7 linked regions of the Homo sapiens genome follow. The protein of the gene in region 1 purifies or fractionates together with the protein of each later gene. This does not show direct contact. Each region holds a gene or a part of one and is shown in the gene's direction. Other genes may lie near its edges.

Region 1 (4,251 bases):
TAGGGGGTTCTCGTAGGGTCCCAGCCTCAATGGTTCCCGCCCTGGACCTCCAGCTGCCCTGACTCCCCTCTGGACACTAAGACTCCGCCCCTGAGGCTCCGCCCCCTCACGAGGTCAAGCAAGACACAGTCGCGCCCCCTCGGAACGGAGCAGGGACACGCCCTTCAGAGCCCGTCTCTATGACGTCACCGACAGCCATCACCTCCTTCTTGGAACAGCACAGCCTGTGGCTCCGCCCCAAGGAACCACTTACACAAAATAGCTCCGCCCCTCGGAACTTTGCCCAGTGGGACTTCCCCTCGGGACTCCACCCCTTGTGGCCCCGCCTCCTTCACCAGAGATCTCGCCCCTCGTGATGTCAGGGGCGCAGTAGCTCCGCCCACGTGGAGCTCGGGCGGTGTAGAGCTCAGCCCCTTGTGGCCCCGTCCTGGGCGTGTGCTGGGTTTGAATCCTGGCGGAGACCTGGGGGGAAATTGAGGGAGGGTCTGGATACCTTTAGAGCCAATGCAACGGATGATTTTTCAGTAAACGCGGGAAACCTCACCTTCTTTCTGCCTGAGCTGTGAGATGAGTGGAGAGCAAACGGGTGGGCGGTGAAGGGCAGATGAGGGAACCGGTACCGCCTTGCAACTCCCCCTTAAACCCCTAGTAAGTTTTGCCTAAAGTCTCTGTCCATCAGCCCTATTGCAGCAAGACTCCTGGGTTCTGCTTGGGTTGGTCTTGCCGCCTCCAGGGGAAGGGGAAACCAGGTCACAGTGCCTCCCAAACCTGCCCTCCCAGATCCCGGACCTCTCAGGGGACAGCGGGCGGGGCCTGATCCACCCTCTGGTTTCTGACCCTAGAAGACCTGCCTTTCTTCGGTTCCCGGTTACTGGCAGCAGCCCCCTCCTCCCACAAAAGATCAGGTTCCAAGCTTCTCCTTTTAAAAGTACTTAGAATTCAGCCCCCAGCTCTCTCCTCCCTCACACCCAGGAATCCAGGCCCCTAGCCCCTCCTCCCTCAGACCCAGGAGTCCTGGCCCCTAGCAGCCCCCTCCTCCCTCAGACCCAGGAGTCTGGGCCCCCAGCCCCTCCTCGGTCAGACCTAAATCCCAGGTCCCAGTCCCTCCTCCCTTAGATTTAGGAGTCCAGGCCCCCAGCCTCTCCTCCCTCAGACCCAGGAATCCAGGCCCCCAGCCTCCTCCCCTCTCAGAACTAAAATCTTGGCCCCCAGCCCTTTATGTTTCAGATCGTAGAGTCTCAGCACCGAGTCCCTCCTCTCCCTAGCCTCAGGAGTCTGAGATTCCAGCCCCTCCTCCCTCAAGATTTCACGTTCAATCCCCTCCGCCCCTTCTCACTCACACCCAGTGTTCCAGTTCCCAGAAGCTCCCCAGGCTCTAGTGCAGGAGGAGAAGGAGGAGGAGCAGGAGGTGGAGATTCCCAGTTAAAAGGCTCCAGAATCGTGTACCAGGCAGAGAACTGAAGTACTGGGGCCTCCTCCACTGGGTCCGAATCAGTAGGTGACCCCGCCCCTGGATTCTGGAAGGTGAGGTGCAGAGGTACTCAGATACAGACATCAGGCCCCGGACCCTCCTTCTCCAGATTCCAGGACCCCAGCCTCAGATGCCCTTCTCTGTCGAGATCCAGCAGTCTGGACCCCGGCTTCCTCCTCTCCCTAATTTAGGAGTCCCAGCTCCCAGCTCCCTGTCCCCTCAGACCCAGACATCGAGGACTCCCCCCTCCCTTGGAATGTAGGAATCCAGTCCCCCAGCCTCCTCCTTCCTCCAGAGAAGCCCAGAACAGCCCCAGATACTCTCGGCTGCCTCCCCAGTGCCCAAATCCAGAACTGGGAGCTCAGGCTCCTCCTTCCTGTTTACCGGCCCCGCCCTCTCCATTTCCCAGACCTCACCATGGGACGCCCCCGACCTCGTGCGGCCAAGACGTGGATGTTCCTGCTCTTGCTGGGGGGAGCCTGGGCAGGTGAGGAGGGTTGCGGAGGCCTCCGGAGGGGAGGGATCTGAAGGCAGCAGTGGCGCTGGGGAGTCTGTGGGAATGCCGCGGGGGTTATGTGGGTGCGTGTGCACGGATGTGAAGAGTGCGATACGGTGCAGGAGCCTCTGTGGGCTTTCCTCAGGGTGGACAGAGGCAAGAAACAGGTAGCAGCAGGTAGGAGTAGGTTCCGTGATGCTGTAAATTGTCTGAATAGCTACAGCCTTTGGGGGCTGCTTGCTTGGGGGCATAGATTCACCTGGGAGTACTCGGGGCCTGTAGACTCATGTGGAAGCATGTGGGGGCATTCTTGGGTGTGTGACTCTTGTATGATGACACATGGACTGAAATGAGTGTCCCCGTGTGGCAGCGTGTGGAAGCCTGGACCTCCTCACTAAGTTGTATGCGGAGAACTTGCCGTGTGTCCATTTGAACCCACAGTGGCCTTCCCAGCCCTCGCACTGCCCCAGAGGGTGGCGATCCAACCCTCTCCCTCCTGCTGCAGGACACTCCAGGGCACAGGAGGACAAGGTGCTGGGGGGTCATGAGTGCCAACCCCATTCGCAGCCTTGGCAGGCGGCCTTGTTCCAGGGCCAGCAACTACTCTGTGGCGGTGTCCTTGTAGGTGGCAACTGGGTCCTTACAGCTGCCCACTGTAAAAAACCGTGAGTGGATGATGGGGGCAGAGGTCAGCTGGGGCTTAAGGAAAGAGGGGGCTGGGGTTTCGACTCAGGAAGGAGAGAGCTGAGGACTGGACTCCTGGGTCTGAAGGAGGAGGGGGCTGGGGGCAATACCCCTGCCTGGGTCCCAAACTATCCCCACCATTACAGGAAATACACAGTACGCCTGGGAGACCACAGCCTACAGAATAAAGATGGCCCAGAGCAAGAAATACCTGTGGTTCAGTCCATCCCACACCCCTGCTACAACAGCAGCGATGTGGAGGACCACAACCATGATCTGATGCTTCTTCAACTGCGTGACCAGGCATCCCTGGGGTCCAAAGTGAAGCCCATCAGCCTGGCAGATCATTGCACCCAGCCTGGCCAGAAGTGCACCGTCTCAGGCTGGGGCACTGTCACCAGTCCCCGAGGTAGTGGGCTTGTCCACTAATGGGAGGGAGAGGAGGAGCTGGTTGGCCCAGTGGAACCCAAGCTATTGGCAAAGCTTGGTCCCCCAGAGGGAGACAAAGAAGGGAAAGTGATCATGATGTTGAGATTCACAAGCAGGAGTCATATGAGAAGCCTCGAAGATCTGACTACTAACAAGAGTGGTGAGAGAAAGAACCAACTAGCAGATTGTTAAGCAGGGCCAGAAAAGCCCATCCTGTATGGCGGAGAGCACTACCCTATGGGACCTTTGGTTGTATAGGATTTTATATAATCTTAACACACTTGGGATATTTGGACTTCTCAGAGGCCCAGGAAAACAGGCTCCTAAGCACCTTCTCCCCCACCTCCCTCCTTTTTTTTTTTTTTTTTTTTTTTTTTTTTTTTTTTTTTTTTGCAGGGGGACACAGTTTCACTCAATCGCCCAGGCTGGAGTGCAGTGGCACAATCTCAGCTCACTACAATCTCTGCCTCCTGGGTTTAAGCGATTCTCGAACCTCAGCCTCCCGAGTAGCTGGGATTACAGGCACCCGCCACCACGCGAGCTAATTTTTGTATTTGTTGTAGAGACAGGGTTTCGCCATGTTGACCAGGCTGGTCTCGAACTCCTGACCTCAAGTGATCTGCCCGCCTCGGCCTACCAAAGTGCTGGGATTACAAGCATGAGCCACCGCCCCTGGCCTTTTTCTCCTTCTTGAACCCAGGAAACCTGGGCCCTGGTCACCTCTTCCCTCAGACCCGGGAGTCTAGGCCCTTCTTCTCCCAGGACCCAGCAGTCCTAGCTCCCTCTTGACTCTGGACCCCAAAATCTGGACCTCCAATGAAGCTGTCCCTTTGGGACTCCAGAATCCAGAGAGCCCCTCGCCTTCCTTCACAGTGAAAACATTGGGACTCACCTAAGAGAGTCAAGGAGCTTCTCCAGGAAGTGGCAAAGTCAGCATTCAGGTCCCTGCCTGCCTCACTCCTGCTCTGAATGCTTTGGATGAGACAGTTTGCGGCTGTGGAAACACACGTGCTCGCAAATCAAGTAGATCAGTTCAAACTATGGCTCTGCCCTTTCTCCCTGGGCAAATTCCTTTCCATCTCTGAGCCTCACTTTCCTTATCTGCAAAATGGGAATCATTAACCAATAGATTTTTTAGCTACGTGAGGGTTCAGGTTACATCAGTTTTCTT
Region 2 (3,500 bases), on another chromosome or scaffold:
CTGTCACCGTGAGTCTGTGTCTGGGTCGTGATCCCGTGCTGTCACCGTGAGTCTGTGTCTGGGTCGTGATCCCGTGCTGTCACCGTGAGTCTGTCTGGGTCGTGATCCCGTGTTGTCACCGTGAGTCTGTGTCTGGGTCGTGATCCCGTGCTGTCACCGTGAGTCTGTGTCTGGGTCGTGATCCCGTGCTGTCACCGTGAGTCTGTGTCTGGGTCGTGATCCCGTGCTGTCACCGTGAGTCTGTCTGGGTCGTGATCCCGTGCTGTCACCGTGAGTCTGTGTCTGGGTCGTGATCCCGTGCTGTCACCGTGAGTCTGTGTCTGGGTCGTGATCCCGTGCTGTCACCGTGAGTCTGTCTGGGTCGTGATCCCGTGTTGTCACCGTGAGTCTGTGTCTGGGTCGTGATCCCGTGCTGTCACCGTGAGTCTGTGTCTGGGTCGTGATCCCGTGTTGTCACCATGAGATGGTGTCTGGGTTGTGATCCAGTGTTGTCACCGTGAGTCTGTGTCTGGGTCGTGATCCCGTGCTGTCACCGTGAGTCTGTGTCTGGGTCGTGATCCCGTGCTGTCACCGTGAGTCTGTGTCTGGGTCGTGATCCCGTGCTGTCACCGTGAGTCTGTGTCTGGGTCGTGATCCCGTGCTGTCACCGTGAGTCTGTGTCTGGGTTGTGATCCAGTGTTGTCACTGTGAGTCTTTGTCTGGGTTATGATCCAGTGCTGTCACTGTGAGTTTGCTGCTCAGCTCCTCCAGCTTTGACCACTGGTGGGTTTCCCCTCCTTCCCCGCAGGGATGCTTCCGGCCCAGCTTCTGTTTCTCTGCCCCAGCCCTAGAATGAGTTGTTTCCAAGGAGCCCTGGTTCTTTTTAGGGGAGCATAGAAACTTCAGTCTGGGCACTGGGAGGGCCGTTGCTCCCGGGGTGTCACAGCTGCTGGCCCTCTTCCTGGGTAGAGCTAGGCTCTGTGTGTCACTATCTCATTTCACACATTTGATTGCTTCTCTGTCGTATCCACCTATCCATCTGTAAGTATACGAAGGTCAACCTGGTCCATGCCGATGACTCTGACTCTCACCTGGCACACGGTGTATTCCAGCCTTCCGTCCTGGAACATGGTGTATTCCATCCTCCCGTCCTGGCACACGGTGTATTCCAGTCTTCCCTGCTGGCCCATCTGAATCCTCCCTCTCTGCTAGTGGGAACCTGGCTCCCCTGACTCCTCTAGCATCTGCTCAGCCCTGGTGCACGTGCGAGAATTGTCCACCCAGGCCCGGGGGGGAAAGCCCTGGAGTGCAGCGTTTGTGTACAGCTCCTTCTGGCCTTGCGGTCTCCACTCAGAACATTTTCCGGAGTTGCTTAGGCGGCTCCTGCCCTCTGGCCAGTGTGTTTCTGTTTCACATCCGTGCGTGTGGAGCCTGTATTCTATCTGCATCCCCCAACCTCCTGGTCGGGTCTTCCCCCAATAGTTTGTGCACATTGAAGTTCATCTCGTGTAATGCTCAGTGCTGTGGGCTTTGCCTCCATCACCCCAGCTCCAGCCCCAAGTCCCCCGTGCATGGGAGTGACCACTTCCCCTGCACCAGCCCCTGGCACGCCCGGGTCTGTCTCCCGTCCCTCTGGTTTTGCCTTTTCCAGTGTGACATACGAATGAAATCACGCAGTATATAGCCTGTTGGGTCTAGATTCTTTTGCTTAGCAAAATGCACTTAAGATTCATCCATGTTATTGCCTGAACCAACAGCTGCATTCTTATCTCTGATTATTTTTCTGTTGCACAAATGCACCTCCGGTTATTTATCCACTTCCACCGTGAAGGATGTCTTCCTTGTTTCTAGTTTTTAGTGGCTATGAACAGAGCTGCTATGAGCATCTGCATGAGGCTTCTGTGCGAGCACACTTTCAGGTTGAAGGCCTGAGAGGTGCAGTAGCTGATTTGTAAGGTAACCCTTCATTATCTGGGTCAGATGCCACCGTCTGCCATCCACAGTGGTAGGCCACAGCATCCCCGGCACAGCGAGGGCACTCCTGCTGTCCCGAACCTTCTGCAGCATTGGGCACTGTCCATGTTCGTGTTTTTTTTGTTTTGTTTTTTTGGTTTTTTTTTTGAGACAGTCTTACTCTGTCGCCGAGGCTGGAGTGCAGTGGCGCTGTGTCGGCTCACTCCAACCTCCGCCTCCTGGGTTCAAGCAATTCTCCTGCCTCAGCCTTGCGAGTAGCTGGGATTCCAGGTGTGCACCACTATGCCCAGCTAATTTTTGTATTTTTAGTAGAGACGGGGTTTCACCACATTGGCCAGGCTGGTCTTGAACTCCTGACCTCAGGTGATCTGCCCACCTCGGCCTCCCAAAGCGCTGGGATTACAGGCATGAGCCACCGCGCCCGGCCTGGGCACTGTCCGTTTTCAAGCACTTCGGCCATGTGACGTGTGTGTGGTGACAGCACGCTGTGGTTTTCATGGGCATTTCCGCAGTGATGAAGGATGTTGAGCATCTTTTCACGTGTTATTTGCCATCCGTACACCTTCCTATGTCTGTTCAGACCTTGTGGCCTGGTTTTTTCTTCCCACCTTTAACATTGGGTTGTTTGTTTTCTAATTATTGAATTTTAAAAGTTCTTTAAATATTCTAGATACAAATCCTTTATCAGATGTGTGATTTGCCAGTATTTTCTTCCAATCTGCGGCTTGTGTTTTCATTCTGTTAAAAGTAGCTTTTGCAGATCAAAAGTTTTTCAGTTTGATAAAGTTCAATTTACAGTTTCTAATTTCATAGATTATGCTTTTGGTGTTGTATCTAAAAACTTGTTGCCAAACCCAAGTCACATAGATTTTCTTCTATATTTCCATCTGGAAGTCTTATGCTTTTATGTTTTACATTTAGGTCTATGATCCTTTTTGGTTAATTTTTGTGTAAGGTGTGAAGTGTGTTCAGGTCCATCTTTTTGCATGTGGACATCCATCTGTTCCAACATGATTGTTACAGAGACTCTTCTTTGTTTTTTTATTTATTTTGTAGAGACTGAGTCTCACTATGTTGCCCAGGCTGCTCTGGAATTCCTGGGCTCAAGCGATCCTCCTGCCTCAGCCTCCCAAAGTGCTGGGATGACAGGTGTGAGCCACCACGCCCGGCCCAAGGCTGCTCTTTGTCTGTGTAGTTGCCTTTGAACCTTTGTCAGAATTTGTTCACTCTGTGTGTCGGGTCGGGGGCAGGGGGGCTGTGTCTGGGCCGTCTCTTCCATTCCATTGAGTTCTGCGGCTCTTCCTTAATCAATACTGCGCTGTCTTGATGTGGTCTTGATTAGCTTTTTAGTAAGTCTTGAAATTGGGTAACATGAGTCCTCCACCTCTGTTCTTTTCCAGATGATTTTGGCTTTTTAATCCCTTTGCTCTCCCATGTATATTCTAGAATCAGCTTGTCAGCCTCGGCGGAAGCACTGACTGGGTGTTTGGTTCAGATTGTGCCGAATTTATGGATCAAATTGACACCTTAATGATTTTGATTTTTCC
Region 3 (2,267 bases), on another chromosome or scaffold:
ATTCATAGCCTGCCAAAGATGGTGGGAGATTTTTCTTATTGTCAATTTCTTTTCTTTTTTTATTTTTAGAATCTAAGCATCGGGTTGGTGAAAAACTCAATTTCTCTATAATACTATAGTCCTTGACAAAAGTTTTTCAAAAATAGCCACTTGGGAATCTCTCTACTAGGAATTCTGAGGAGAAACAGGGAAGCAGGAGAAATAGAAAGAAAGAGGAGGTAAAATGGTTTGCACTCCCACAACAAAGCTATTTATGGCATCAGGGCACTGAACTGAGCTGTGATTTCAGCAATGAGGACAAGTAGGAAAGTATGACGGTAACAAATAACCCACTGGCCATTCACAAAGATCTTGGTGCCTCAGGCAAGTAGTCAGATGAGTTTGCTAAAAGACCATTGACAAACTGGAAACTGAGACTCATGGGATCTCTGGTTTATACAGCATTTAGCACTTTTCCTCTCCAATAAGGTTAATTAATCCAATATTGGCCGCGGTGGCTCACGCCTGTAATCCTAGCACTTTGGGAGGCCGAGGCAGGTGGATCACAAGGTCAAGAGATCGAGAGCATCTTGGCCAACATGGTGAAACCCTGTCTCCACTAAAAATACAAAAATTAGCTGGGGGTGGTGGCATGCGCCTATAGTCCCAGCTACTTGGGAGGCCAAGGCAGGAGAATTGCTTGAACCCAGGAGGCGGAGGTTGCAGTGAGCCAAGATCACGCCACTGCACTCCAGCCTGGGCGACAGAGCAAGACTCCATCTCAAAAAAAAAAAAAAAAATCCAATATAACAAACATTGTATGACATCTGTCATTTGCCATGCAGTATGATTGACATAACAGCAAATCCAGTCAGCATATCAAGAAAATTAAGATAATCATAATGGCAGAATGCCAGTGGTTCAGAGGAACTATAAGAAGAGTACCTAAGAAAGAGGTGAGTGGCAGGGAAGGCTGCTCAGATGGTATGATTATTGAGCTCACTATTGAAGCAGACATAGGAGTTTCTTAGACAGAAAAGGGGTAGAAGATATTCCAAATAGATAAAACAACATGTGGAGGGGCAAGAAACGTAAAACAGTATAGCCTTGACACCTTGCCTCATGATTCAGCCAGGAAACAGATGGCACAATTGTAGGTTAGCCGAAAAGAGTTTAATGAAGTGACTATTTCCAGAGATACAATCAGCATCAAGGATACTAATAAAGGATGGTGAAGCATTCAGAGCTAGCAACAGTGGGAAGCCATTGACCACCTGGTTGGAAGAGGAGAGGACAGAGAATGGTATTACCAGAACGTGGTGACAGCTGTAGCCATGGGAGAGGGTCCACCCTACAGAAACCCTGACTAGAAGCAGAGGAATACCACCACTGCTAAGCCACAGCCCAGCAGAAGCAAACAGAGGGATAAATACTCTGACTTCTCTTTCCTTCTGTCTCCAGCCAGCGCCTCCCATTGGCTGAACCCCCCTGCAAGCTGGAGGGCAAGGGAGTTTGGGAAAGCTTTTTGTGAAGGACAGCTTCCTCAGGCCTAGAGAAGGATGGAGACTAGATCTGGAGAGACATACAGAGAATCGTTAGCACACCTCAGATTCATATCCCAGGTCCATACAGTCTCCTGTTTCTTGAATAGGTGCAACACAAGACTGTACCTGTAACTAATACTGTGACAAGTCTGCTGTCTTCGTGAGTTTGGGCTGTTATAACAAATTACCACAGAATGGGGATTTAAACAACAGAAATTTAGTTCTCACAATTTTGGAAGCTGGAAGTGGATGATCAGGGAGATCCTGGTGCCAGCATGGTCAGGTTCCAGTGAGGGCCCTCTTCTGGGTTGCAGACAGCCACCTTGTATCCTCACATGGTAGAAAGAGGACTAGAGTGCTCTCTGGGGTATCTTTTTTTAAGGGCACTGGTCCCATTCACGAGGGTTCCACCCTCATGACCTAAATTACATCCCAAAGGCCCCTCCTCCTAATCCTAATACCACCACATTAGGGTTAGCATTTCAACATAAGAATTTGGGAGGGACACAGACATTCGATCCATACTACAGCCCTTGTTTCTTTTTCCTAAACTGATAGAGAGAAGAGTTCATTAAATTTTATGACAAGTGAGATTCTTAAGATCTAGTTTGTTGTACAACCTGTGCCCTTTACTCAGTCTTTCAATATGCTTATTTTTAACCACAATGATGTAATAATCTATCAGATTTTTGAAAGCAAAAACAAATAATCAGACAGTATGAGATGACATAGCATGTAAGTGCT
Region 4 (2,472 bases), on another chromosome or scaffold:
CTGGAAGGATGTTTTGGGGATACTAATTTTATCAAAGGTCTGAAACGTAAGATTATGGAAAGATAGAGATCTTTCACAGCCTAGCCATATTTCTACCTCACATTGTTTCCTGGAGAGTTTGTCTGTCAGTAGCCCATCTGTTTTAAGATCACACGGGGAGTTCATAGTCTTACGTGTGTATTAACTTCGCTGTAGGTCATGTGAAACAAGCTGGAAATCAGAAGAGAAACCTAAGGAGCCATATAGTGACATAGCTTTCTGCATGCTTCTAAAACAAAATCCTGACTTTAGATTCTAACCAGAATTCATAATGACTAGCTTTAGGTAAATAAGGATCTCTCTACAGGGAATGCATCTAAAGAGATGTTGCATTTTTATCCACTGGGGAAGGAGTGAGCAGAATTCCTAAATCATCATCCTTTCCTGTAGAAAGAGTAAGCTTAATGTAATCTGGGCACAGAGGCTCACACCTGTAATCCTAGCACTTTGGGAGGCTAAGGTGGGAGGATGGCTTGAGGCCAAGGGTTCAAGACCAGCCTGGGCAACAAAGCAAGACCCCATCTCTACAAAAATAAAATAAAATTAGCCGGGCGTGGTGGCATGTACCTGTAGCCCCAGCTACTCAGGAAGATGAGGAGAGAGGATCTCTTGAGCCCAGAAGATCGAGGCTCCAGTGAGCTTTGATTATGCCACTGCACTCCAACCTGGGCGACAGAGTAAAAAAAAAAAAAAAAAAATTGAAGAAAGTAAGCTTAGTGTAGACCAAGTAGAAGTCTATGGATTGTGGACTCTGTGAGGGCAGAGACCATAGCTGTTATCTGTACCAGTATCCCTAGCAACTAGTTCAGTGTCTTGCTTATACAGGTGCTCAATAAATATTTGTTCTATGTGTGACCAAATAAATGAAAGATTCTAAATTTTCTGGTAGTAGGAAATATCTCCATATAGATAGAAAAGTGCAAAAATCATAAATCTGATGAATTTCCACAAAGGGAACACCTCATAGACCTAGTGCCCAGGTAAAGAAATACAGTCATTCCAGTCCCCAGTACCCCTCATGCCCGTCACAGGCATTGCTTCTCCGAGAGTAAGCTCCAGCCTGACTCCCAGTGCCACGGTTCTGTTTTACCCATTTTTTAACCATGTATAAGCATGTCCTCTTTTGTGCCTTTCCCTGTTCATTTATAACATAGGGAGATTCATCGTGTTGGGAGTAGCAGTGGTTCATTTCTGCCCAGTGCAGTATTCTGCTGTGTGAATATACCGCAATGTATCCATTCTACTATTGATGGATACTTGGGTTGTTCCCGCTTGGGACTATTAGAAGTAGTGCTGCTGTGAATATTTTTGTACCTGTCTTTTGGTGGGTGGGTGTATGCATTCCTGTCAGGTATGTACTGAGGGGTAGAATACCTGGATGATAAAGCATGTGACTGTTCAGCTTTAGTAGAAACTGCTAAACAATCGTCCACATTTATACTTGCACTAGCAGAGCTTCTGTTGCAGCACCTCCCTGAATGCCTGTTTAGGTCTTTTTCATTTTAGGCACTCTAGTGGGTGACTAGTGGTACCATATTGATCTTTTAATTTACATTTTCCTCATGACTGAGGAAGTTGAGCATTTTTCATTTGTTTATTTGGATATGCTCTTTTGTGAAGCGTCTATTCTAGTCTTCTGCTCATTTTCCTACTGAGTTGTCTCTTTTGCTTACTGAATTCTCTCTGTAGTCGGGGCACAACTCCATTGTTGGATACATGTGATGTCAAAATCCCCCACTCCGTGGCTTGTCATTTCACTCTCTTTTTTTTTTTTTTTTTTTTTTTTTGAGATGGGGCCTTGCTCTGTGGCCAGGCTGGAGTGCAGTGGCGTGATCTCGGCTCATTGCAACCTCCGCTTCCCGGGCTCAAGCGATTCCCCTGTCCCAGCCTCCTAAGTAGCTGGGACTACAGGCACATGCCACCACGCCTGGCTAATTTTTTGTATTTTTAGTAGAGACGGGGTTTCACCATGTTGGCCAGGTTGGTCTTGATCTCCTGACCTCATGGTCTGCCCGCCTCGGCCTCCCTAAGTGTTGGGATTATGGCTGTAAGCCATGTCATTTCACTCTCTTAATGGTGTCTTTTGGTGAAAAGAAGTTCATAATTTCATGTAGTCCAGTTTATCCATTTTGTTTTCTATATGTTTAGCAGTTTTTTGTGTCCTGTTTAGAAAATTTTTGCCTATTCCAAAATCATGAAATTTAAGTTCTCCACCTCTGTTGAAATTATAATATTAAGGCAGAAAAGACTCTTCATTCTGATCTGTTGGTTCTTAGCCTTTTGCAAGTCCAGGATCCCTGTGAAAATCTGACTAGAACTCTGGACGCCCTGCACAGAAGTGCACCTACGCACACACACAGTAGATTTTCCTGCAGTGTTAGGGAGTTCACAGACACTCAGACTTAATCTGTGGACCCCTTGTTAGAGAACCCC
Region 5 (3,500 bases), on another chromosome or scaffold:
TCTTTAAAGTACCTTTATGGGTTTTTTCTTCTAAAATTGTTTTTTAAAGAAAAAAGTTTTATTTGGAATAAGATTCTTGTAGGTAATTCCATGAGATGATTTATTTTAGCAGCAACATAATATTTACATTATTATTAATGTAATTAATGTTATTAATACCTCATCAGATAGCTTCTTTGATCTGGAAGCTTCCAGGTACCTATTGTCAGTACTTGTGGCTCTACCACTTGCCGAATGTATTACAACTCTAGTTGTGGTAGAGAGGGGACTGAGAGGTAGACAACTTATGTAATCTACTACCTAGTTTGTTAACAAAACACACATACAAAGCAATGTTTTTCAAATTTTTCTGACCACTGAGCAATAAAAATTATGACATATATTTTGATGTGACCCAGTTCTGTCTCTCTTTCTCTACCCTCTAAGTGAAACAAAATTTATTGAAACCAAAATTCCCTTACTACATGTAATATTCTCATATATTCTATTAAATTTCGTTATTTAGCTTGCTGATCAAAGGCTACTGAAACTTGAGAGCAAGATACAGGAGCAAGGGGAAATGTGGTATAGATTCTGAGTGTCAAGTGGCAGGTCCATTTTTTCCTCTAGCTCCAGTTCTGCCTTCTGAGGAAAACCTTCTCCAACAACTTAGGTCAATCACACCCATGTCCCTTCTCTGAATCCTTTTTGCACATATGATTGGTATCCGACAGCCTTACTCATTTACATTGCACTTATTTGGCTGCCAAACGTCACAAACTGGAACCATGTGTTACTGAAGGGAAAACCTGGAAGTGAAAAGGGTTCAGCAGTAGTGCAAATACCATCATAAAGCTCATATACTTCACTCTGCAGGAGGGAGAAGCTCTGTGGTTTTCCAACTGAGAGCATTACAGTACAGTGATACCACTGTACAGGAACTGATGTTCCTGATGATTCTGCTGTGAACAGTATTTTTAATATACACTTTGAAGAAGGCAGAGAGAAATGTATAATAGACTTAAATTTTTTTCTTTAAAATTGTTAAATAAAAACAAATAAGCACTTTAAGTAAGTTACAATTATCTGGAAAACTACTTAGGTGGAAAAACTGATACAGAATGAATGAAGTATTAATTTCTGTTTTGTTCTGTGTTATTATTATTTGGGATAGATGTCTTGTTTCTTTAAGCAGACTATGAATATCTTGAAGGCAGAACCACATTTTTTTTTTTTTTGAGACAGGGTCTCACTATTACTCAGGCCAGAATGCAGTGGTGTTATCATAGCTGACTGCAGCCTGGATTCCTGGGTTCAAGCCGTCCTCCTGCCCCAGCTTCCTGAGTAGCTAGGACTACAGGCATGTGCCATCACACCCAGCTAATTTCAGCTATTTTTTTTTTTTTTAAATAGAGATGGGGTTTTGCTATGTTGCCAGACTGGTCTCAAGCCATCCTCCTGCCTTGGCCACCCAAAGTGTTGGGATTACAGGTGTGAGCCACCACGTCTGGCCAAGGACCAGATTTTTAATATTCTTTTCCACAATGTATCTGGTACACAGTAGTTGCTTAATATGTTGGCTAAACAAAGAGTGGAGATTCAGTAAAGGGTGATCAGAGTGAGGTGAGATTAATTTGGGAAAGCCTAGAAGTGATTCTTGAGCCTGATTTGAAGGTGGTGCTAGCTGTGGATTAGTAGAGGGAGAAGGGCATCTCAGAGAGAGGATTGCCAACATGCCTTAATTTTATCAGATTCTAGAGTTCCTTATGATTACCTCAGCATGTTGCTAGACTAGCATTATTATCCAAAATTTTAATTATTAACCAACTTTAATCTTACTTTCTAACAAATTGTTTGCTTTTACTACTGATAGCCTTTTCAAAAAACTTTAACTAGTTTTATTCCTTACCATAATTGTTTCAAAGAACATAATGATATGATCCTTTATCTTCCTAAGAAATGTGCAATTATTTGGTTAAACTGTAAGATTATTTAATCCATTATTCTTTTGACACATGCATGGCCTTACAGCTTACAAACTGGGATCACTAAAGGAATACACTTAATTTAAGTCTTTCTGTAGTCAGAATATGATTTCTTGTTGTCTTGCACAATACTGAGAACAGTGCAGTACAGGGCGAAGGTTGGTCTACAGCCCTTAGGCCAGCAAAAACAGGCACAACTGCACCTCTGTGCAAATGTTCCTGACATAACCTTGGGGAAAAAATATAAAATGCGGCCTTTTCTTTTACTACCTTGTTTGGTAAGTACCTGGAAAAACTCCATGAAATAATTAGATTTCATAGTTAATTCTAACTTTTTTAAAAAATGTTTCATTGAGACTAGGTTTTTGGTTTGTTAATTGAATCACTGTTGATTTTACCCTTCCTGGCACCAACCTTTATTTCTGAGCTGTGGAGAGCACAGTTCTCACTCAGTGCTGTGTGCGTCACCTGAAATCCACAGAAAGAGGTGGCTGAACAAAATCACTGATGACCTTAATGGTTATTTTTCACATATTCAGATTAAATTAAAATACGTTTAGTGCTACATGCTTGACTTACTGAGTTTTTCCCTCTATTTTGGTTAATTTTTTTTTTTTTTGGTTAACTTTTACTTGTAGAAAATATGTTGATGAACAAAAACCCACTTATACTATAAGATTTTATTCTACCAAGCACACAGTAACAATATTGAAAGCTGCTTTCCATCTTTTTCATCTTTATACAGTTCCATCGAGCCTCTGTACCTTACCTATGGAATCATATTTGCCTGCGGCTGCTCCTTTGCATACCAGCCTTCATTGGTCATTTTGGGACACTATTTCAAGAAGCGCCTTGGACTGGTGAATGGCATTGTCACTGCTGGCAGCAGTGTCTTCACAATCCTGCTGCCTTTGCTCTTAAGGGTTCTGATTGACAGCGTGGGCCTCTTTTACACATTGAGGGTGCTCTGCATCTTCATGTTTGTTCTCTTTCTGGCTGGCTTTACTTACCGACCTCTTGCTACCAGTACCAAAGATAAAGAGAGTGGAGGTAGCGGATCCTCCCTCTTTTCCAGGAAAAAGTTCAGTCCTCCAAAAAAAATTTTCAATTTTGCCATCTTCAAGGTGACAGCTTATGCAGTGTGGGCAGTTGGAATACCACTTGCACTTTTTGGATACTTTGTGCCTTATGTTCACTTGGTGAGTATGCTCCTTCACTGATCATGAATATTACTATTTAATAAAGAAAAACTTCTTTGAAGAGAAAGTTAGGTCGAGTTAAAGTTGGCCTCAAACATTATCCTGGTTGTAATTTTGGTATTCTTGAAATGAAAGGTCTCTCAAGACAATGTCAGCACATCCATTAGACCACTAAACAGAGAGAGTATGTTTCATAGTGTGCTTTGGTATTTTAAAAACCCTGCAAACCCAGCCAGACACCATGGTGCCTGTCTATGGTCCCAGCTACTAAGCTGAGGCAGGAGGATCACTTGAGCCCAGGAGTTCGAATCCAGCCTAGACAACATAGAGAGACTCT
Region 6 (3,500 bases), on another chromosome or scaffold:
TCACCTTGTACAGATGAGGACTCCCAGCTGTAGAGGCTGAAGGAGCCACACTGCAGGTAGAGCAGGCATTCACCAAGGCGTGTGTGATCCCAGGGTGCAGCTCCCACCCTTGGCTGCCTGGGTGCTCTTTTCCAGACCTACTGTCTTGTGAGATCCCCTTAGGCACCCAGCACAGGCTGCTGTCTGAATTTAGAACTGAGCCTGTTCAATTGATGGCTCAACATAGGCCTCTAAAAAAACAAGTCTGATGCGGTTTGGTACACCTGTGGTTGGCTTACTTATTTGGTGTTCGTTTTTTCAGTTTTCAGAAAGGTCAGTTGAAGTGCTGCTGGTGGCTGTAGCATTGATACACAGGGGAGGTTTTTGATCTGTGAGCTTTCTAGGAGGCAGTTGCTAAGCTGCACTGATACCTTGAGCCCCTTTCCTTTGGAACAGTGTGGACCCCAGGTCATGGCTCCCAGAAGTTTAGGTTCTGTAATTTGGCTGCAGGCCTAGAGAACAGGATGCTGCAGACTTGGACTAATGGTGAACTCTTGCCTCCCCCCAGGGATATGTGGTGCCTGTCATAAGCTCCAGAGAGCTGCCTTCCACAAGACCAGCAGAAGAGTGGGCAAACATGAAATCCAATCCTGCTATCCAGGCTGCCATTGACCTCACAGCGGGGGCTGCAGGTACAGTCATGTGCCTCATCACCATGTTTCTGTCGTTGATGGATGGTGTATCTGATGGTGGTCCCATGAGATTATACTACCATATTTTTACTGTACCTTTTCTGTGTTTAGATACATTTAGATACATAAATACCACTGTGTTATAGTTGCCTGCAACATCCAGTACAGTAACATCCTGTACAGGTGTATAGCCTAGGAGCAATAGGCCATACCGAATAGCCTAGGTGTGGAGTAGGCTACGCCATCTAGGGTCAGGTGTGTATGCTCTATGATAGCACAATGACGAAATTGTGTAATGACATGTATTTCAGAACATGTCCCAGTCATTAAGCAATGCCTAACTATAATCCCAGAGAAAACCCAGTTCTCTCTATTCCTCAACTACTCTCTAAATGAGATCAAATGAAAGTGGTATGAAAATACTACCTTTCTCCCTCCAGTACTTTACCTTTGGGATTAATCCATTTGATGGAAGTTTAGTATTGTTCAGAGAGTAGCAGAAGCTAGAGGAGTGTCCGTTATTGTTAACACCTTGTCAGTCAGGGTGATGGGTGGAAGGTGCCCAGTACAGCTGGAAAACAGCTCAGAGGTGAAGCCACGTGTCCATTGTCACCTGGCTGGGATATGCAGGTGATGTGGTTCTTCACTTCAAGCCTGGCAGTCTTCAGAGCCCTTGTTGTGCAAAAATAACACCATAGCATCTCCTGGGAAACACCACTTACTGTCCCTGCTAGTGTTGGGAAAGAAAGGAGGACACTCTTAGAAATGTCTTTAAAAGGCTGGGCGCAGTGGCTCACGCCTGTAATCCCAGCACTTTAGGAGGCCAAGGCGGGCAGATCACCTGAGGTGAGGAGTTCAAGACCAGCTTGACCAACATGGAGAAACCCCGTCTCTTCTAAAAATACAAAATTATCCAGGCGTGGTGGTGCATGCCTGTAATCTTAGCTACTTGGGAGGCTGAGGCAGGAGAATCGCTTGAACCCCGGAGGCGGAGGTTGTGGTGAGCCAAGATCGCGCCATTGCACTCCAGCCTGGGCAACAACAGTGAAACTCTGTCTCAAAAAAAAAAAAAAAAGACATGTCTCTGAAAATGAGACTGATAATGGACTGTGTCTTAGAGCCGTGAAAGTTGTAGGATTTGCTGGGAATGTCAGCTAACCTGAGCCTAGGGGCCTGAGCCCAAGAGCCTGAGGCTCCCCCAGCACAGGGAGGTGCTACCTGTGATAAGGGGTAGTGCTGGCACCATGCAGGCTACTCCTTAGAAAGATCAGCTTGAACATGCAGGAAGAGCAGGACCCTCAGGCTGGGAAACAGGGCGGAATGGGAAGTGCATGGTGGTAATTTGGTTCTCCAGAGTCCAGAAGTAGGAGGAGTGGCTGGAATACTGATTGCCCAAAGGAAAACCCTGGACTACCCTGGGCTCCCGCAGGATTCTCATAGTAGTTGCAGCTCCCTGGAGTGGGGAGGCCAGCGGGGGTGTTGCCCAGTGCTGTCCTTATCCAGCACACCCCCCACCCCCACCACCAGCAGATGAGTATGGTCATGAATATGGTCACCTCATCAGTCATTTGCTCAATTGTGAAAAAGAAATTGTTCAGAGAAGAGCAAAGTGTTTTTCCATGAGCCAAAGGTCAGCCAGGGTATGCTAATGAGGAAGACTGGAGAGAGCGCGTCACCGTCACCGAGCCTAATGAGGAGCACTGGGCAAGGGCACTTCTCCCAGGGCAGAACCCACAAGGAGCGTCCCAGCCCCAGATGCCCAGGGAACGGAAGGCCAGTGGGGGTCTGCCCAGTAGTCTCTTGCCCACTGCGTGCCTTTAGGCTACAGCCTCCCAAGCCCCTTTCCCCCTCCCCTCCCCCATGCCACACTGGGGAGGACGCTGACCCTGAGAATGGTGCAAACATCTGCCTGCCCCAGGCCGCCTCTCACCAGCGAGTGAATGCTCTTGGGCTCAGTTCTGTTTCTGCAGAAGGAGGGTGTTTAGCCACATATAGTCTCAGCTTTTGACATTTTATGTCTTTCAGTCAATCTGTCAAAGATCTAGAACCTATGGTGATAGAATTTAAAAGTTTACCTTTTCCTATTTATGTGCATACAGGTATTTGGGTACCACATTTATAATTTACAAGTTAGTTTGAAAGATAGAAATTGCAACAGTATGGTTGGGAGCCTGGTATGTAAGGCATTTGCTGGTGGGCATGTTTTGAACATGTATTGATCCCTTATGTATACTGACACACTGTCCCCATCACTGTTGGACAGGTATTTCCCCCTGTGCTGGCGACACAGGGACGCCCCTCACCGAGGTAGAGATGCTGTGGGTAGTCTTAACTTCTGAGGACAACGAAGCCCATTCCTGGGGGGACAGGATAGGGAGGGGGAGCGAGACATGGTCTATAGGTTGGGGGCTGGGCAGAGGAGGTGCCTAGCAGTGACACAGAAACCTCTGTTCTGCTGTGAGGCCTATGGAATGCAAATGGAACCCACTTTTGAGGATCTTGGAGTCTTGGAGTGCTGGAGCTAGAGAGACCTTTAGACATTGTTGGCTCCAATGCTCGTTGGATATGTAGAAAAAGGCCCACAGAGGAGCAGTAGATTTGTTCAAGGTTACACAGCAAGATGGTGTGAAGACAGGGCAGGACTGTGATCCCTGGGTCCCTTGTCTGGTGTCGTTGCTGTCTCTGCTTTAGTACTCCGTAATGCATCTGCAGCACACTGGAGGGGAGGGTTAGTTTGGAGCCTTTGGGCCCTGCCTTTCTGGATGTGGAACTTGCTGGGCTTTGGGAATTTTCTGCCAGCCATTGATAGGAGCAGAGGACCTGTTGTGT
Region 7 (3,500 bases), on another chromosome or scaffold:
GGCTCTGGATCCTCACACCAGGCTACCCTTTATGGATCTCCTCCTCATCCTGCTTAGACTCAAATTCTCCATTCTCATTAGTAGCCAACACTTATTCTGGCAATGATTCTCAGGGGAAGGGTCTCCTGAGATTTTAGGCTCATGAGGAAATGGGAGGGTCTTGTCAGAAAATTTTAGTGAGGTAATTCTAATATACCTAGACGTCATAGCTCTCTCCCAGGGCATAGAATTACTGAGTTAGAAGAAATAACTGGTTTGTTTTTACATAGGATGTGATGTCTAATATTGTACTAAAAATGAGGATGCTTATGCTATACTCCACTGGTACTATCCACTGGATTTATTTATTTTTTTTATTTTTTGAGACGGAGTCTCGCTCTGTCGCCCAGGCTGGAGCACAGTGGTGCAAACTTGGCTCACTGCAAGCTCTGCCTCCTGGGTTCACACCATTCTCCTGCCTCGGCCTCCAGAGTAGCTGGGACTACAGGTGCCCGCCATCACACCTGGCTAATTTTTTTTGTATTTTTTAGTAGAGACGGGGGTTTCACCGTGTTGGCCAGGATGCCCTCGATCTTCTGACCTCATGATCCACCCGCCTCGGCCTCCCAAAATGCTGGGATTGTAGGCGTGAGCTACCGCACCTGGCTGTTTTTGTATTTAGATAGAGTTTAAGTGCAAAGTAATCTGCTGATTTAAGGTTGTTTTAAATTCATATCTGAGGAATAAAGGATGGACAGGCAATTTCCATCCCTTTGATGTTCCATAGTTCTAGCTATTTATATCATTCATTTGCCCCTTCAGCATGGATTGGCTTACACCTGTAATACGTTCCAGAATAGCTGGATTTCTTTTGTTTTCCCATCGGTGATTTTCATAGAGTAGATGCTCAATGACATATAATGCAGAAAGGCCAAAAATAGAGGTAAGTAAAGCTATGAAAGAAAAGAAGAACGAAAGAGGAAGCAGAGTAGTTTGATTTTGTTTATTGCTGCTTAAACCAGAGAGATATGTTATTCTGGAAGGGTGATTTGCTTGTTTTTACACATATGCAGCCTGACTGTTTTAGGCTTGGCTTCTTTTTTGTTTGTTTGAGATGGAGTGTCGCTCTTGTTGCCCAGGCTGGAGTGCAGTGGCACGATCTCGGCTCACTGCAACCTCCGCCTCCTGGGTTCAAGCGATTCTCCTGCCTCAGCCTCCCCAGTAGCTGGGATTACAGGTGCTCGCCACCACACCCGGCTAATTTTTACATTTTTAGTAGAGGCGGAGTTTCGCCATGTTAGCCAGGCTGGTCTTGAACTCCTGGCCTCAGGTGATCCACCCACTTCAGCCTCCCAAAGTGCTGGGATTACAGGTGTGAGCTATGGCACCCGGCTGGCTTATTTCTTATAGGCTTTGGGCCGTTGCTAATTTTCCAGCTGATATAATACAATCCAGCTTTATTCGAAAGATAAGTATTCTAACTCTTGTTCGGTGTTTATTCAAACTTGTGTTTGCATGTATTTGTTTGGACTATAAATTTTGAGACTATAGTGAGTATGTTTTTGACTATAATATTTTAAATGGAAGATGAAATTTAAATTAGTATTTGCTTGTTTCTTTTTACAATAAAATAGGTAGCTTTGCAGTTTGGGGAGGGCTGTTTTCCATGATTGACTGTAGTATGGTTCAAGTCAGAGGAAAGGAAGATCCCTGGAACTCCATCACAAGTGGTGCCTTAACGGGAGCCATACTGGCAGCAAGAAGTAAGTAGTCATTACAGACATACTAGTAGAAGCCACACTTTTAGGAAAACCTCATCTGCCTCAATTGAATGACATCTGTAATATATAAAACTGATTATTGACCAGGCACATTGGCTCATGACTATAATTCCATCACTTGGGAGGCTGAGGCAGGTAGATTGCACAAGTCCAGGAGCTTGAGATCAGATATAGGGAGACCTGGTCTCTACAAAAAAAAAAATTTAATTAGCTGGGTGTGTTGGTGCATGCCTATAGTCCCAGCTACTCATGAGGCCGAGGCAGGAGGATCACTTGAGCCACCGCACTCTCACCTGGGCAACAGAGTGAGACCCTGCTTCAAAAAAAATAATAATTATAAAACTGAGCATTGTTTAATTTGGCATAGCATAAATATACAGTATATGGTGATTTGAAAAAAAAGTAAGGGGATCTATTTATTTGGAATATTTGAGAATGAAAGAGCATGGAATTCTAACCCATATATTACAGTGGTTGAGAGCACTTCAGGTCCCAGTTCTGCCATTAATTAGCTGTATGACTGGTCAGTTTACCAAACTTTTTATGCTATAATTTCTTCACCAGTAATCTGGAGTTAATTAATAATTACACCTGCCATATAGAGTTGTTATGAATAAGGAACTTAGAACCATCTTCTGGATCCTCAGGACAGAGAATTCCTTTGAGCTTAGTGGTTTAGACCAAGGGATTTGCAAACTATTTCTGTAAAAGGCCAGATAGTGAATATTTTAGGCTTTGTGGGCTGTGTGGTCTTTGTCATAGCTACCTAAATCTGCTGTCATAGCATGAAAGCAGCCATGGATAATACATAAACGAAACAGTATGGCTGTGTTTCAGTAAAACTTTATTTATTTATTTATTTTATTTTATTTCTTTTTTTTTTTTTTTTTTTTTTTTTTTTTTTGAGACTGAGTCTCACTCTGTCGCCCGAGCTGGAATGCAGTGGCGCAATCTCGGCTCACTGCAAGCTCTGCCTCCCGGGTTCAAGCGATTCTCCTGCCTCAGCCTCCCGAGTAGCTGGGACTACAGGTGTGTGCCACCACGCCTGGCTAATTTTTTGTATTTTTAGTGGAGACGGGGTTTTACCATGTTAGCCAGGATGGTCTCGATCTCCTGACCTCGTAATCCACCCACCTCGGCCTCCCAAAGTGTTGGGATTACGGGCGTGAGCCACTGCGCCCGGCCCTATTTATTTATTTATTTTCTTGAGACGGAGTCTTACTCTGTCACCCAGGCTGGAGTGCAGTGGCACAATCTCGGCTCACTGCAACCTCTGCTTCCTGGGTTCAAGCAATTCTCCTGCCTCAGCCTCCTGAGAAGCTGGGACTACAGGTGCCCGCCACCACGTCAAGCTAATTTTTGTATTTTTAGTAGAGACGGGGTTTCCCCATGTTGGCCAGGCTGGTCTCGAACTCCTGACCTCATGATCTGCCTGCCTCAGCCTCCCAAAGTGCTGGGATTTATGGCCTTTCAGTAAAACTTTATTTACAAAAATAGGCAGTGGGTGGACTGTGGGTGGCTGTAGTTTACTGACTCTGGGTCTTAGGCAATAAGAAAGAGTTTGGGAGTTGGGGGAGCATGTCACCATATGGACAGTTCTCTTCTTTACTATCTCTTACAGTAAACTAGATTTCTGTAAAAAATAATCTCTTTGTTATTAATGTCTTCAGATGGACCAGTGGCCATGGTTGGGTCAGCCGCAATGGGTGGCATTCTCCTAGCTTTAATTGAAGGAGCTGG

The links.
Region 2: the proteins of KLK8 (region 1) and LMF1 purify together in Homo sapiens (affinity purification with mass spectrometry, with the first as the bait; one large-scale study listed by BioGRID). This does not show direct contact.
Region 3: the proteins of KLK8 (region 1) and RAB39A purify together in Homo sapiens (affinity purification with mass spectrometry, with the first as the bait; one large-scale study listed by BioGRID). This does not show direct contact.
Region 4: the proteins of KLK8 (region 1) and TAMM41 purify together in Homo sapiens (affinity purification with mass spectrometry, with the first as the bait; one large-scale study listed by BioGRID). This does not show direct contact.
Region 5: the proteins of KLK8 (region 1) and SLC16A10 purify together in Homo sapiens (affinity purification with mass spectrometry; one large-scale study listed by BioGRID and IntAct). This does not show direct contact.
Region 6: the proteins of KLK8 (region 1) and SLC25A15 purify together in Homo sapiens (co-immunoprecipitation; 2 studies listed by BioGRID and IntAct, with this or other methods). This does not show direct contact.
Region 7: the proteins of KLK8 (region 1) and TIMM17A purify together in Homo sapiens (affinity purification with mass spectrometry; one large-scale study listed by BioGRID and IntAct). This does not show direct contact.

Annotation. Positions count from the first base shown.
Region 1 is NC_000019.10:50,998,805-51,003,055, reverse strand, and holds the start of KLK8 (kallikrein-8 isoform 1 preproprotein), read left to right. Parts: upstream 1-1,451; 5' UTR 1,452-1,524; intron 1,525-1,880; 5' UTR 1,881-1,888; coding exon 1,889-1,958; intron 1,959-2,337; coding exon of another isoform or gene 2,338-2,472; coding exon 2,473-2,632; intron 2,633-2,797; coding exon 2,798-3,060; intron 3,061-4,251. UniProt on the Homo sapiens protein: Serine protease which is capable of degrading a number of proteins such as casein, fibrinogen, kininogen, fibronectin and collagen type IV. Also cleaves L1CAM in response to increased neural activity.
Region 2 is NC_000016.10:957,485-960,984, reverse strand, and holds part of LMF1 (lipase maturation factor 1), read left to right. Parts: intron 1-3,500. UniProt on the Homo sapiens protein: Involved in the maturation of specific proteins in the endoplasmic reticulum. Required for maturation and transport of active lipoprotein lipase (LPL) through the secretory pathway. Each LMF1 molecule chaperones 50 or more molecules of LPL.
Region 3 is NC_000011.10:107,959,448-107,961,714, forward strand, and holds part of RAB39A (ras-related protein Rab-39A), read left to right. Parts: intron 1-2,267. UniProt on the Homo sapiens protein: The small GTPases Rab are key regulators of intracellular membrane trafficking, from the formation of transport vesicles to their fusion with membranes.
Region 4 is NC_000003.12:11,792,414-11,794,885, reverse strand, and holds part of TAMM41 (phosphatidate cytidylyltransferase, mitochondrial isoform a precursor), read left to right. Parts: intron 1-2,472. UniProt on the Homo sapiens protein: Catalyzes the conversion of phosphatidic acid (PA) to CDP-diacylglycerol (CDP-DAG), an essential intermediate in the synthesis of phosphatidylglycerol, cardiolipin and phosphatidylinositol.
Region 5 is NC_000006.12:111,174,503-111,178,002, forward strand, and holds part of SLC16A10 (monocarboxylate transporter 10), read left to right. Parts: intron 1-2,709; coding exon 2,710-3,163; intron 3,164-3,500. UniProt on the Homo sapiens protein: Sodium- and proton-independent thyroid hormones and aromatic acids transporter.
Region 6 is NC_000013.11:40,792,611-40,796,110, forward strand, and holds part of SLC25A15 (mitochondrial ornithine transporter 1), read left to right. Parts: intron 1-547; 5' UTR 548-616; coding exon 617-671; intron 672-3,500.
Region 7 is NC_000001.11:201,962,003-201,965,502, forward strand, and holds part of TIMM17A (mitochondrial import inner membrane translocase subunit Tim17-A), read left to right. Parts: intron 1-1,613; coding exon 1,614-1,742; intron 1,743-3,430; coding exon 3,431-3,500. UniProt on the Homo sapiens protein: Essential component of the TIM23 complex, a complex that mediates the translocation of transit peptide-containing proteins across the mitochondrial inner membrane.